2 linked regions of the Homo sapiens genome follow. The protein of the gene in region 1 interacts with the protein of each later gene in a pairwise test. Each region holds a gene or a part of one and is shown in the gene's direction. Other genes may lie near its edges.

What was found.
Region 2: the proteins of GAD2 (region 1) and LDAF1 interact in binary tests that used the Homo sapiens proteins (3 or more experiments, as listed by UniProt).

The regions. Positions count from the first base shown.
Region 1 is NC_000010.11:26,300,217-26,304,046, forward strand, and holds part of GAD2 (glutamate decarboxylase 2), read left to right. Parts: intron 1-571; coding exon 572-745; 3' UTR 746-3,830. UniProt on the Homo sapiens protein: Catalyzes the production of GABA.
Region 2 is NC_000016.10:21,175,652-21,178,702, forward strand, and holds part of LDAF1 (lipid droplet assembly factor 1), read left to right. Parts: intron 1-1,485; coding exon of another isoform or gene 1,486-1,507; exon of another isoform or gene 1,508-1,510; coding exon of another isoform or gene 1,511-1,583; exon of another isoform or gene 1,584-3,051. UniProt on the Homo sapiens protein: Plays an important role in the formation of lipid droplets (LD) which are storage organelles at the center of lipid and energy homeostasis. In association with BSCL2/seipin, defines the sites of LD formation in the endoplasmic reticulum.

The DNA.
Region 1 (3,830 bases):
AGTTCAGCTTTTTGTCCCAGCTAATTATCATCATTATTAAGGATTATCTTTCAAAATATCTTATAAAGTGAGGCACTGCAAAGAGAGAACGAAAAGAAACTAGAAAGCTCTGGGGTTTCAAGAAAGTTGCCAAAAGTCTGCTTATCTTCATATATCACCTGACACTCAAACTTACATTTTGGTAACAATCCTCTGAACTGTTTATTTCCAATGTTTTTACATTTACTGTGGGGGGAAAATGCCCCCAAACGTCTTGCTAACCCATTTAGCTTGGGGCCAATACTAGATTCATCCCATCCTCCCAAAACACTAACTGGAAAGTCAAGGACAAGGTGGCAGGCAGCTGATAGTCTATCACTTATTATTCCTCTTATCACTTGCAGGATCTTGAATGTGTTAGACTGTTCTAATTCTCTGATCCCAAGAAAACTTGGAGGTAACTCTTTCAAGAGAAAACAATAAGGTTCTGACTGTTGAGCTAAAAACTAAAGACGCTGCTTGCTGTTGGGTTCTTTGACTCAGGGGAGAGTCCCAGGAGAAAGTCACCATGCTGATATGGTCTGTCCCACAGGTGGCTCCAGTGATTAAAGCCAGAATGATGGAGTATGGAACCACAATGGTCAGCTACCAACCCTTGGGAGACAAGGTCAATTTCTTCCGCATGGTCATCTCAAACCCAGCGGCAACTCACCAAGACATTGACTTCCTGATTGAAGAAATAGAACGCCTTGGACAAGATTTATAATAACCTTGCTCACCAAGCTGTTCCACTTCTCTAGGTAGACAATTAAGTTGTCACAAACTGTGTGAATGTATTTGTAGTTTGTTCCAAAGTAAATCTATTTCTATATTGTGGTGTCAAAGTAGAGTTTAAAAATTAAACAAAAAAGACATTGCTCCTTTTAAAAGTCCTTTCTTAAGTTTAGAATACCTCTCTAAGAATTCGTGACAAAAGGCTATGTTCTAATCAATAAGGAAAAGCTTAAAATTGTTATAAATACTTCCCTTACTTTTAATATAGTGTGCAAAGCAAACTTTATTTTCACTTCAGACTAGTAGGACTGAATAGTGCCAAATTGCCCCTGAATCATAAAAGGTTCTTTGGGGTGCAGTAAAAAGGACAAAGTAAATATAAAATATATGTTGACAATAAAAACTCTTGCCTTTTTCATAGTATTAGAAAAAAATTTCTAATTTACCTATAGCAACATTTCAAATGTATTTAAATACATATAATTTTACAAAAGGAAAATATATATATTAAAAAAGATATCCTATTTTGTAACATATAGATTTTTATTTTATATAGGTTATACAAACTGCGGGGGCAGATATAAAATCTAAGCCAGATTTTTTTTTCCTTTCTCTTAATGGAGGCACAATAAAACACTTAGCAAAGTTATTTTGAAACATTGACCCACGAAATTCTTAAAAGGTATTATTGCTTCTTTCTATACATGTTATGGCTTATCACATCTCTAAAGTTAGTATTTCAAGACAAACACAAAAGAATACTGCGAGTTCTTTAAAATAATTGATCCCATTGGCAGTAAGATTCTCTTCCCCTTTAAGTTTTCCACCCATTTTACTCTTAGCGGACTCACTCTGCAAGCGTGACAAACCAGGCTTCATCTCAGATTAAATTAGGGTAATTGTCTCTATTCTGCTTTCCAGTTCGGCCTGTTTTGAACAGAAGGTTGATGCTAGTTCTTGAGGCATCTTCCAAATAGTATTCTTTTATTAGGTCATTTGAATTAATTAGAGAAAGTAAAAATAAAACCTTATCAGCCTGAGCAAAGAGGAATGAAGCACACTCCCAGAATGTGGTGAGCCCAGAAAATTAAAGTTGGCCTTGGGAGAAGAGATCTCTGTGGGACAATAATGACATCATCCTGGCGCCATATTGCCACTGTCCAGGAAAGAGAAATTTACCTCCAGGCCAGTTGCGCATTTCCATCCCCTCCCCATTCCTCCCCACAAAGTCTCTCCCACTAGACTCCCTACCACTGGGACCCAAAATAGTTACTTTATATTCCATGGGTGGTTGTTTTTCTTCCATGAAATGAGCCTCTCACCCTAGATTTTGAGGCATTATCTTAAGATTTTCCTTTATCCATCTCCCATCGAGATCCAAAGTGACCAGAATATGCAGAAATAATAAGATCCTTAGAATTCAAAATAGTATTTTTAAAACATCCTTCTTTCCCTGTGAACCTGATAGAAAAACATGAGCTAACAAAAGCTTCCATAGATATTTATGGGGTCACACATCGTCAGATTCCAAGTGCTGATTGGAGAACAATAGATTGATATGCAGACTGCAAATGCAAATTTAGGAACATTCTCCATTTCTGAATGGACCAGGTAGTTCAGTACTCAGACTGCAGGTATACAAGGGAAGAGAGAAGGCCCTGCCCTTCAACGGGTAGAAATGCCCTACAATATAACATAGAGAAATGCCCTATAATATAACCACAGGATCCAGCCATCTGAAATTTTCATAAGCTTCCCCCTACATTATTTCTCCTAGGCTATATGCAAAAACAGTGATAACTTGATATGAACATGGCTTTGGGCCCTTTCTGTCTAGAAAAACAAATGGGTTCACTATGACAATCAGAAATAAACTCTTTCATCTGTCCCGCAGAATTTCATGAAGGAGTAACCTTCCATTCTAGGCTTTGTCTAATGGCCAAGCATTAGACAAAGCATTAGAAAGCAGTTCCTTTCTCAAAACTGCCTGCTGAGAATAAGCACATAGCTGCCCGACTATCCGGAGCCTCAGGCCCAAAGGTTCCACTTCAGAGACAGAGATGCTAATTGATCCAACCTGCTGTCCTTCGTGGAGAAGACAGTGGGGCCCAGTGCCCTGGTGAACCAACCCTGCTGTACTCCAGGATGCTTTATCTTTTGAGTTACAGATCCTAGATTATAAACTGCTGCTTTTTAGGTTAATGAGATGGTAAAATTTTAAAGGACAATTTGTGCCTATATATGAAATTCCAGCAAAACAATTCTAGCAACAACAATAGCTCTTCTTCCCCGCTCCCCTACCCCTTCCCAGTACTCCTTCAAATTGGCTGAGAGCCTTGCTCAGGCCTGTGCAGGGAAATCCTTACCAACTGTAGCCCAAAGAAGGAAGCAAATAAAAGCCTAGTAGGTCCCAGTAGTTTAATAAATCATCTTGAAAGGAGATGTGGAATCAGGTCAGAAGAGAGTAAGGGAGGAAGGGAGGGAGGGAGGGAGGGAGGGAAGGAGGGAGGGAGGAAGGAAATGAAGGGAGGGAGGGAGGGAGGAAAGAAGGGAGATTATTTTTAATATTAGCCCAAATTCCCAGTGCCATGGTCTTTATGTGTGCCCATTCTTTACAAATCTTAGAAAAGTTTGGTTTTAGCTTTAATCAGAACTGACATGGCCATTTTCATTTATACAGCAATATTGTGTTTATCATTTAAAATACTTGAACAAACAAGTGTGATATGTCTTTATCTGAGACCTATACATGGTATGGACTTCATATACTGCCACAGGATGTGAGGAAAGAAAAGGAAATCAATTCTGACTGTGTTGCCTTTATTATCTGGATAATACTGTCTTGTCACCTCAGATTGGGGTTGTGCACTTTAGATCTGAACTGTACAGTGTTGCAAATCAACATGTGTTTCTGTAAAAGCTTGTACAATATATTATTGATATGTCTTTTTCTGTGTGGTAGCTGTATTGAACTTTGATATTATGAAAACTACATTTGCATCTGTTCCTGTTCTCTCTCTCTCTCTCTTTCCTAACTATATGCCCTCCACATCGGCTCTAATAGAGAACATGCCCTC
Region 2 (3,051 bases), on another chromosome or scaffold:
AGGCAGCTTGCTGGATTTGGCCAACCATTGCTCTATAAGAACTGATATCCTGAGTTTTGTTTTTCTACAAAACAGCCCTTGAACTCCTTACCAAAAGTTTATCCTGTTATTATTCCTATGTTGAAAAATAAAGGGTGAAGTGGGTATAATATAAAATTGCTCAAGGATGGCTCTTATAGGATTGCTTAATTGAATCAACCCTGGAGTCATAATCACCTTTTCAAAAATCGCTTTGATCACTCTTAGTCTTTTGTTTGTTCATTTGTATTTTACTTATAAAATGGGGTCTTGCTGTGTTGCCCAGGCCATTCTCAAACTCCTGGCTTCAAGCAATCCTCCCCCGTTGGCCTCTCAATGAACTGGAATTATAGGCGTAAGGCACTAACTCACTCCCAGTCTTAAAAGATGTAAAAGGAGAAATATTGGCCTATTTTGCATATTGAGGGTGATGCTTCTGAAATAAAATTCCTCCCTGCCTCTGAACGCTGCTGTAACAGGGTGAGTTCTTAAAGATTATACCACAGGAAGTAGCAGAATCTGACTCCCTACTTATCAATGAAGAAATTGAAAAACAAATCCAGGATTTGTACTTGATCTCCTTATCTTCCCCTATTGCTGCCAACCAATTGTTTCCACGTGGGCAGAGGTTCTTAAGCTTTTTGTTCTCAAGTCCCATTTTACCTTCTTAAAAATTATTGAGGCATCTGAAGAGATGTTATTTATGTGGTTAATTGTATTAATAGCACTTTGGGAGGCCAAGGAGGGAAGATCACTTGAGGCCAGGGGTTTAAGACCAACCTAGGCAACATGGCAAGACCACATCTCTACAAAAAATACAAAAATTAGCCAACTGTGGTGGTGCGTGCCTGTAGTCCCAGCTACTCAGGAGGCTGAGATGGGAGGATCATTTGGGCCCAGGAGTTCAAGGCTGCAGTGAGCTGTGATCACACCATTGCACTCCAGCCTGGGCAACAGAGCAAGACCCTGTCTCAAAAAACAAATGAAATGAGCTGAAATATAAAATAAATAACTAACATGACATAAAACTATATACAATAAAATAAATTAAAATAAACATAACATAAATTACATTAAATCAAATTAAATATTAGCTGGTGCATGCTTGTGGTCCCAGCTACTCAAGAGGCTGAGGAGGGAGGATGGCCTGAGCCTGGGAGGTTGGGGGTGCAGTGAGCTATGATTGTACCACTGCACTCCAGCCTGGGTGACAGAGCTAGACTCTGTCTGGAAAAAAAAAAAAAAAGAATATTAATAATTATTTCTTTTTAAAAAATTTTCTTCCTCATTGTTTCTTGTTCTGAAATAATTATTCTATGAGAAATCATAGCATAAATTTTAAAAATATCTATTCATTTAAAAGGAACAATATTACCTGTTGATATAAATAACAAATTTTAATGAAAAGTAACTATATTTTCCAAAACAAAATGAAATTTGTGAGTGGTATTATTTTACATTTTACAGATCTCTTTCATATCTGCCTTAACAGTTGTCAGCCGGCTTCTCGTTTGTGTGGCTGCATTCATTCTGTTGTGCTATGTTGTCCTGTTTGGAGTATTTGAAGAAGACCTAGCATCACTAACATGCGGTTGGGAGAGGGAGGCAAAGCTTTTTTAAACGATTGTGGATATTCTATGATAGTCCACCAAAACTCCGTAAGTGATAGTTTCTTAAAGGTTAGCTGAAATGTGAAATTTTTCTACTCTATTTTATTGAAATCTTCAGGTCTGTGTCACACTTTAAATTGATCTTTATCATGCATGATTTTCTAACTTTACCCATTGGTCAATGGGAGAATATCAATTCATTGAGTCATGCAGATCTTCCAAATATATTTTGAAAAATTGCACTGTTCCCTTGTGAGAGAATGTGAGTGAAAAAGGCATATAATAGGTCATGTTATTGTGAACATGGTTTTCATCTGAGAACCCTTGCATTAGCGAATTCTTTTTTTTTTTTTTTTTTTTGAGACGAGTCTCACTCTCACCCAGGCTGGAGTGCAGTGGCTTGATCTTGGTTCACACAACCTCTCCCTTCTGGGTTCAAGCAGTTCTTCTGTCTCAGCCTCCCGAGTAGCTGGGATTATAGGTGTGCACCACCATGCATGGCTAATTTTTGTGTTTTTAGTAGAGGTGGGGTTTCACCATGTTGGCCAGGCTGGTCTTGAACTCCTGAGCTCAAGTGATCCACCCACCTCAGCCTCCCAAGATGCTGGGATTATAGGTGTAAGCCACTGTACCCAGCCTGCATTAGTGAATTCTTTATAACTCAAAAAAAGATAACTCCCTCATTAAATGATCGAAAGCATGGAATGGGGGGAAGAGGAGCTATATAATTTATTTCATGATTTAATGGAATTTTGGCCCTAAAACATAAAAGATAATACAGCTTAAATTTTTAAAAAAGAAAAGAAAAAGGAAACAAAACTGTAAGTTTCCCTTACATATGAAACCCAACTAAACAATATTTAGATCAAATACACTGACCTGCCTCCTATGTAGATCAGCTAGCCTCTGAGGGGCAAAACCACACTGCTTGGTTATGGAGACTGCAAGACCTTCCAGGGCCTGCAGCTCAGGAGAAGTAGGGGCCCTGGGCAGCTGTGTTTATTTGCAGAGCCACCAAACTCACTACCCCATATCATAATCTTCCAAACCAGCCTGAGCATAACTAGCTTCCTTACATCTTTACTAAGAAAAGGAAAGGCTTCTTTCTTAGTTTTTTGTTATCAGGGAGGAATGGTTTAGGTGGCAAATAATGAAAAAAACCAAAGTAGATACTAGTTTAAACACACAGGGAACTTTTTTTTATTGCTTAATGAAAAACTGGAGACAGCCCAGGGCTGGTGCAGCCAGTGTGGTATCAACATACCAGGCACCTTTTGCCTTCCTGTGTTGCTATCCTTAGCCCATTGGTTTCCTACCTTATGGCCACAAGATAGCTGCTGCAGCTCCAGATCTACCAGCTACCTTCAAGGCAGCAGAAAAGGAGAAAAAAATGGAGTCTGACCCTTTTAAAAATGTGAATAAA